Linked DNA regions of Homo sapiens: all the other regions are linked to region 3. The links come from fine-mapping of genetic effects on gene expression. A gene starts in region 3. Each other region holds a variant in brackets. All regions are shown on one strand. Distances are from middle to middle.

Region 1 (2,755 bases), 110 kb before region 3:
CACAGCGGAGTGACTGGAGGTACAGGCCAAGAAGGAGGGAGGCTCCCTGCCCAGGGTGTGGAGTCCCCGACCCCAGGGAGCCAGGGGCCACCCTGACAAATGATTTTTCCATTACGTCTGCTGACAGCAACCAGTTAGTGTTGAAAATTGGAAACAACTTGGCAGAGACGGAACACACACAGAGAGGACGGTGCTGGGGAGGGGCCGGCTGGGCTGCTCCGCAAATGCCCCTTAGGCTTTCCATTACAAATGACAGCCTCTGGAGCACTATGCACACCTGATCAACAGGCTCAATTTGACTCAACACCAGGATCAGTTTGCTGTGAGACAAGTATGATCTTAAGATATACAACTTTTTTTCCTGGTAGACACTAATTTAGAAAGGAAAGGAGATTTTTCCAACTTTCCCCAGGAATTGATTCTGGCCAGAATGCACATTAATGTGCTCTCTGGCCTCAATTTGCCCGCCTGACCACAGACACACACACACACACACACACACACACACACACACACACACACACGTCCACCTGACCACACACATACACACACAACACCCCTTTCACCAAGTTCTAAGATGCTGGCCACCTCTTCTCCACACTGGCAGGGTACCTGACAGTTTCTGGTTGGAGAAGAATGGGAGGGGCTGGTGTAGCCCACTAATGCCCCACTACGGGAGACAGATGTGCCTAATTCAGTCCCCACCGTCACAGGACACTCTTTCTTACCATCATTTCAAAGTCGCCACAGTTGTCACAGCAGCAGGATACCACTGAGTGATACAGCACATGCTTGGCCTGATTTGGCAGAGGATGCCTTTGGATAGACCCCACACACGTGCGGATCCTGGGGAGCCCCCACCTGAGCTCCGGTGCCACCTCCCCCAGGCAGCGCCTCTCCACCTTCTCTTCATGGCTCTGATGCCACGAATACCTCACAAGCTTGCTCCAAGTCACATTCAGTGGGACTTGCTTTCACTTTCCAGGACGAGGTTCCTCTGTACAACCCACTTCAGTGTGGAACCTTCAGCAAGGAATGAGGGCTACATGGTGGCCAGGGAGAGGTGGAGACCCGCAGGCATGGTCGAAGATGGTGGGAAAGGGGAGTTCAAGCTGGACGGGCAGAGATAAGCTATCAAAGCAAACGCTGGCTGGGCTGCCAAGTGTCCGGAGAGATTATCTCAAAAACAAGCAGGAACGGCTCCCTCCAAAGGGGCCCACCTGCTGAAGGAGTGGGGACCCAGCCTTCCAAGTTCCATGCCAGCCAAGTTATAGAGTCAAACCAAATCAAGACTCTTGAGCCACCCCGCTCCAACTCTTCTGCCCAGCCTGACGTGACCAGGCCAGTGTAGCCACCGCCCCAGTGCACAGCTCAGCTCCCCAAACCCCACGTCTG[T/A]GGGGCCAACTGTTTAGGACACCAGTAGTTTGGGCATGCACTGGGATAAAAGTGCTCCAGGCACCTGGGGTGGCCCATCCTTCATTTCAACTAAGGCATCACTCATCATGCAAAGGCTGGCATCCAGGAGAGCCAACTCAGACCTCAGGAGTGGAGGATTATGTTTGCTTTATGAGGGCAGATACTCTATGCCTGGGTCCTTACAAGTATACACATTCCATAATGCGTCTCTATCACCAAAAGCCGCTCTGCAGCATCATGGGGCACCGGTACCCTGTCTCCTGCGACAGGTCGTGGAAATGATATGTAGAAATCAGACATCCCTAACTCCAGAAAATCTCTAGATTCAAAGACACCGCTTCCCAGACCTTATCTTTTCAACCTGAGTCATAAAGAGAAAAATCTTAGTCTTATCCACAGTTATTTAACATGAAATAAAATAGCTTGCAGCTATTCATTTTGCTTAACACGGTTTTCACGTGGAAGACGGCTACGTAACGGAAACCCAGAGGGATGAAGGCTTTGTTTGGTATCCATGACTGCACCCAAAGGGAGAGCGGGCGTCTCGCAGAGTCTGATGGGGAGGAGGAGGGTGGGACACTCCCGTGTCACACAAATTCATCTTTGCCTATCAAATGCCGGGAAAAGGAAGGGTGGGGGTGCGGCTCACAAGAGTTCTTTTGTTTCTGTTATGGGGTGTCGCTGGGGTTCAGCTGTCTTCTTGAATCATTTCACCTGTTTCACAGTGGCTTCCAGTCCCGGTCTCCAGGTCTCTGACGAGTACACCACCCCATTTTAACACTCATCATAGCTCAGAATGTTCCAGGCTATAGCTAAAATATAAGTTAGTGGAAAGAGGTTGCTGGGGAGGAGTAGACAAGGCTCCTGATGAGAATCTTCTAGAGAACTGCAACCTTGTCATAATGAACTGGGGTCCTCACAGGCCTCCTGCACCAAAGTCCTCTGGAGAGGGAGACATCTGGATGAGGAGGGTGGATGGTGCCCATGAATACAGTCACCTATGTGGAGAATTACAGCTCATCGTGAGCTACCATCAGGGATCCTAATTTTACATGAAATCCCACTGGAGAATTCTTGACAAGGTAATGGCCATTTAAAAATCTGCTCTGAGACATTTTATGGGGATATTGTGCATGTTAGAGCCCAAGCCAGACAAATAAATGGGAAAAAAGGTCCGAGGACTCAGGATACCTGGATCCCAAGTTTATGTCCCCACCCCAGACACCATTCGAAAACGGTACATGGAGACCCTTAGGGAAAGGCAGGTCCCTGGAGGCCCACTCCTCATGTACTTCCTGCCATAGTCATCCAAGCCTGAACATTTATGGTCTTGATGTCA
Region 2 (2,755 bases), 170 kb before region 3:
GGGCATCTTTCAACGGACCCTGAGCAAAGCTAGAAAAATGTAGAAAAAACAGAGTAAGCGGGAAATGTCGCATACGCTCCCTGCCCTCCTCAGCACAAGGGAGCTCTTGGCCATGTAGAAAAGTAGCTACATAGATAGCATGGATACAGGAACATCTGTGATGATATTTTATGAAGGCTGGGAATTTTTGAATGTAATTATCAAAGTTGTGTAAGAACCGTATAATTGGTAGATCAAAAAGCCCAATTCTATTGAAGGCTTGTCCTGCTGTAATCCAGGGCAGAGATGATGCCTGTCTGTCTGAAGACCAGAACCACTGCCACACCCCCACCAATTTTCTGCCTCTCCTTTCCCTGATGACCTCTGGGAAACTTCCAGCCCTTTTACAATTAGAATACAGCACAATCCTTAGAAGAACAGAGACTGTAAATGTCATCTCTGGAGTTTCCTGCCCAGGGACCTGTTTGGGAAAAGGGCCTCGAGTTCAAAGTGTGGGGGTCAGGTGTGGAGCTGGGCCCTGTGGGCTCCTGGTAGGCGGCTGGGGCAACACGCACCTGAAGGGCTCTGACTCATGCACGTCGAGGGCTGCCCCTCGTATCCTGCCCTCCTTGAGGGCTTGTGCTAAGGCTTTCTCGTCCACCAGGCCGCCACGGGCTGCGTTCACAAGGAATGCTCCCTGCCTCATCTGTGGAAGGAAAGAAAAGCCGGTTACAGGCACACTGGCATGGTGGAAGACTCTTGTACCAAGGTTTAAAGAAGAAAGCTGCAAGCTAGTTTTGTTGGTCTGGTGGTTTAATGTGTGTGCTGCAGTTTGAGGGAAGGGAGTGGGAAGTGTTGGTGACGGCTGGAAGCCAGGGCCGTTGCTGCTGATCCTGAGAGGAAGCAACACGGTGGAAAGGCTGGACTGTGCCGAGCTGCTGGCCTCTTTAAAGGTTCTGGGAAGCTTCTGAAGCTGGGTCCTGGCTAGCGCCTGTCCTTCTCTGCTTAGCCTGGCTCAGCCCGAGGAAGGGGCTTCACGTGGCTTGTCACTGGTTTGTTGCAGGGCCTCTTCCCTGCTCAACAGTGTATCCAGAAACCACCTCCGTTGCCCTCCGTGTCCCTCTTGTGCCCACAAGCAAGTGCTACCACCTTTCGACAGAAGCTTCCATGGCATCTATTTTCAAATTACCTGCTTTATGGTAAAGTCATTGATGAGGTGGTGGTTATGTTCGTTGAGATTGCAGTGCAAGGAGACGCAGTCGCTCTGATACAGCAAATCCTGCAGGGTGTAGACCCTCTGCACGCCCAGGGACCGCTCGATCCCATCCTGCAAGTAGGGGTCATAAAATATGACGCTGAATCCAAAGGCCTTGGCTCGAACTGCAACCGCCTGCCCCGTGCGACCTGTACAGAAACAGAGCGTCCAGGTGAGTGAGTCCACAGCCCGCGCCCCAGCGCTGCCACCTCCATTGCTTCTGAGCTGAGTCCGGGCTTGGCATCCCCGCTGGTAGCTGCTGCCAGAGAAACCGTGTGCCCAAAGCTTAGTGAGGCCTGAGGCGAGCACTGCCCGCGAGGGGCCACCATGGCCGGTGTAGGACAGGTGAGGACCGCAGTGCTTGCTGCTTATATTGGGTAC[A/G]GCAGGATTTTTGTTAAAAACAAAACAAAACCCTTCCTTGTTATTGACATTTTCAAACACAGAGTGTTCTGACAAGCCCACATGCCCCTCCCATCACCACCCGTGTCCTCCGTTCCCACCCCTCTCCCCACTTCTTGTGTGCACTGCAGGCTTCTTAACATGAGCTTTGTGTTTGAAAAACTTGCTCTCAATGTCACAGGGAGTAATGTCCTGCCTCCTCATTGCTGGGCTCGCTCCTGCAAAGGGTGACATGAGCACAATGGCTCCCTGCAGGCTGGCCCGAGTGCAGACTGGCCACATGCTACTGTGTTCTGGGCGGGAGGCAGGGCACATGACCATCAGACCTGGACCTGTCCCACTGGTGGGGCCTCGCGCCCATCTGCATTATGCAGCCTGGGCCTCCCGCCAGCTATGTCACAGGATGAGGAGGTGTCTCCCACTCCCCAACGGCTGTCATTTCATAAACCCATGGGGTCCCCCTCGATAGCACCTCCAGCTTCCCAGAGCAGTTTTCAGCATTTTGAAAACAAAATGGTTAGTGTTGATGCTCGACTGGTTCTCTTGGAGATCACAGAAGGAATCTTTAAAGCCATGGCTCCAAGGTGCAGGCAGGAGAAGGACAAAGATGCGCATTTCCGAGCAGGCAGCCTGTGTTCCAGGGGTACCTCAATGCTGGATGGCTCCTCCTGCAGCAGCTCCATCTAACCGATGGCCTGGCTAGGACAACTGCCGTAGTTTAGAACAAAGGTTGAATAAGGCCAGTCTGATCAGGGACAGCTGCAGGACAACTAGTATAGCAAGGCACGAACCATCACGCCTCTCCTCCTCAGTGTCACCCTTTACAGCAGGCAGGACTGGACGGTGGCAGGGACGGAGTGAGAGATGGCTCTCTGACGCACTGGCAACATGAAACTGAGGACCCCAGCATGCAACTGCTGGGAGCTCACACTTCACAGGACCCCCGCCTGCCTTCCCCCGTTCCTGCAGCCTCCATCCCCCTCATGGCGTCTGTGCACGAACATGCTTCAATCAGTGGGGCTCACACTCTGCAGATCCAGGGCCTGGAGGGCCTGTGGAAAAGCAGCCCAGAGCACCAAGCCCAGATTTGAACCGTGCCGACGGCTATTTCTTTGTTTTTTT
Region 3 (2,755 bases):
GCCCCGCCGCGACTTTGGCGGGCCGAGCCCCGCGCGGCAGTGGCGGCGGCGGCAGCGGCAGCAGATGTGGCCCGGCTGCCCGGAGGAGCCAACAATGCGGGGCCGGCAAAACAAAAGGGTTCCACTTCGCCTCCTTTCCCGTCTTTCACTTGCGCTCCCGGGGAGCCGCGCGGGATCCCCCGCCGGCAGGGGCAGCGCCCCTGGGGACCGAGAGCCGCTCACGCCCCGACTTCCCCACGGAACCCCTCTTCTCCGCGCCCCCCCCACCCTCGCCTCGTAGGCGCAAGGCCCGCCGCACCCCGGCGCGCTCGGACTCCTGTTCCCCGGAGATCCGGCCGTATTGTCCCCGCGGCGCGTCGCGCGCTCGGCCTGGGTCGCCGGCGGCCCCCGGGCGCGCACCCACCGGGCTCAGGGAGCAGGAGCCGGGGGCGCCCAGGGAACCGTCGCCGAGACGCCGCCGCCGCCGCCGCCGCTGCCCTCCGGACGCCGCCGCGCTCGGGGTTTCTTTTTTTTTTTTTTTCAACCCTGATGGGAAGGAAGGTGACCGCCTACTTCGCATTCATCAACTCTCATCACAACAACAAAAATCCTGGCGCAAACGGCGGCCAGCGGGCGCAATCGGTGGCGGGGGCGGGCGGGGACCCCCGAGCCAGCGTCCACCCCCGGGCGCCGAGGGGGGACACGAGGCCGGGGGCACGGACCAAAGATGTCCTCGGATGCCGGCTCCGCGTCCTTCGCCCTCTTCCTCCTCCTCCTCCTCCTCCCTGAGTGGCGCAGTGAGGCGCGGGCGCGGCGCCCCCAGCCCGCGGCCGCAGGTGAGGCGGGGGCGGCGGCGGCCCCAGCCCTCCCCCGGGGCCCCCCTTACCTCGTCCCGGACGGTCGGCGTCCACGGCGAAAGGCGCCCACCCTGGAGGCGGCGGCGGCGGCGTCTCCCGCCCCTCCCACCCCACCCGGCGGCGGTGGCGGTGGCGGCGGCTGTGCGGCCCCCCCTCAGCGCGGCATGGCTCCCGGTTCGGTCCCTCGCTCCTCGGGCCGCCGCCGGCTCCTCCGGGCCGCTCCCGAGCCACCTTAAAATGACACACGCACACAGGGACACACACACAAAAACTTAATCTCTCCAGCTCCCCGCCCCTCCCCCTCCCGCCCTCCCCACCCTCCCTCCGCTCCCCTCCCCTCCCCACCCTACCCCTCCCTTCCCTTCCACCTCCTCCCCTCGCCGCCGAGCCTCTTCCTACTTCCCCACCCACCCCACCCCCTTCCTCCGCCCACCCGGTTCCCAATTCCCCCCGCGTCCCGGCCCCGCGCCCTCCCGCCCGCCGAGAGGGGGCTGCGCTGGGGGTCCCCGGCCCGGGCCCGCCCCGCGCCGCGCTCACCCCCGAGAGGATGCTAATTCCAACTTGGATCGGGGGAGGGAACGTCCTGGATGCCGAGCGCCTCCCGGCTATTTGCTCTTCTTTATTTGTTTTCTCCTCCGGGGAAGGAGAAGGAAAACGGAGAGAAAAGGAAAGGAAAGAAGCGGCGCTGGCCGCAGCTCCCGGTACCCGCTGGCTGCGCAGGAGCTAGGCGGGAGGCGAGGTGAGGGTCGCCGCTCGCTCACTCCTCGCTCCTGTTTTTGGGGGGGGGGGGCAAAGGCGGGGTCTCTTTTTGCAAACCAATGACACAACCCCACATGGGCCGGCCTCGCCCCCTTCAGATACTCCTCACTACAAATCGGCTCTCTCGGGGGATTAGTGGCTCCGCGAAAGTGCACACAAGCGCGGCGGGCGGGAGGGCCAGGGGCCGGGCGCGGCGGGCACTCCCTAGCCCGGCCCCGCCCGGGAGGCCCTCGGGAGGCGCGGGGGCCTCGGTGGCAGGGGCCGAGGTCCTGTCGCGGTGGCTCGGGGTCCGCTGCTCCCCTGGCCCTTCATCCTCCTCCGCCCCTTCCACGTGGGGTACCGGGCAGCCGGCCACGTGGGGGAACGCGAGCCCCGGGTGGCCCCGGTCCCATGGGGCCCCGCCCAGCCAGCGGCGCCAACCAGCCCCCTTCCCGGCCCCCGGGCTCCAACTTCCTCCTGGTGCCCCGCACCGGCCGCTTCTGCCTTCTCAGGCCCGCGGGGTCAGGCGCGGGCCGGCCACAGGGGGCACTTGCGCTCCCCAAATCCAGATCCGGGAGACCGTGCCGGAGAGGCGGCGACCGCTGTGGGTGCGCAGGGAAGGGCCCTCTGTGCTGCAAGTTGCAGCAGTGCTGTGCCCTAAAAGAAGCAAAACATTCTTACACATTGAAAAAAAAAAAAAAGGTTCCCTCTTGCTGCCTGGATCTCGCCGGGGCATTTGAGAAGCCCTGTGTTGGGTCGGAGCCCCGGGTCTCGAGGAGGGAGGCGCGCTGCGGCGTGGGGGCCCGCGACTCGGGGTCCTGGGCTTGCGCGGCGGCCCGGAGCCCACGCCGTCCTGACGTCTCAAGGTTGGAGTCTGCACAGCGAGCCTGGGAATCCAGGCCCAGCGGCCGCTCGCGGCCCAACGAGCACCTGGGCTAAATTCCCCGCCCGTGACCCGCGACGTCCGAGCGCCGTCTCCGGAAGGGAGCTGGTGGCCGTGGAGTGTGGGGTCTTCTCCCTGCGCCCCAGGGCCCCCCAAACTCTTCTCACTACCCTGAGTTCGGCGTGCGTCCTCCAAGAATCCCTGGGTGGGCTGAACTGAGCCCTTAGGATCGATTTGTTTAAAAACCCTATTGAGATATTAGGAGCTGGATTGAGATGTCGAGCAGGAAAGGAGTGGG

Which allele goes with the higher level. Alleles are on the strand shown, and positions count from the first base shown. SD is a standard deviation of normalised expression in the study named. Not every link is listed here.
For the expression in anterior cingulate cortex of the gene that starts at base 1,110 in region 3, allele G in region 2 goes with a higher level than allele A (small effect, 0.23 SD a copy in GTEx).

The links.
Region 1: its variant is fine-mapped to the expression of CTBP2 in tibial nerve (GTEx, PIP 0.91).
Region 2: its variant is fine-mapped to the expression of CTBP2 in anterior cingulate cortex (GTEx, PIP 0.98).

The regions. Positions count from the first base shown.
Region 1 is chr10:125,048,569-125,051,323 of GRCh38, forward strand. The region is part of intron 2 of CTBP2 (C-terminal binding protein 2); the gene reads right to left. Among named protein-coding and RNA genes, the nearest start is that of MIR4296, 17 kb to the left of the region's middle. RefSeq lists an enhancer at 1-5. The variant T/A (reference allele first, on the strand shown) is at 1,396.
Region 2 is chr10:124,993,301-124,996,055 of GRCh38, forward strand. CTBP2 (C-terminal binding protein 2) reads right to left here. Exons shown (of 11, transcript NM_001329.4): 7 at 1,169-1,383; 8 at 555-685; 9 at 1-29. Among named protein-coding and RNA genes, the nearest start is that of MIR4296, 38 kb to the right of the region's middle. The variant A/G (reference allele first, on the strand shown) is at 1,616.
Region 3 is chr10:125,159,454-125,162,208 of GRCh38, forward strand. CTBP2 (C-terminal binding protein 2) reads right to left here and starts at 1,110. Exons shown (of 11, transcript NM_001329.4): 1 at 866-1,110. RefSeq lists an enhancer at 1,881-2,490.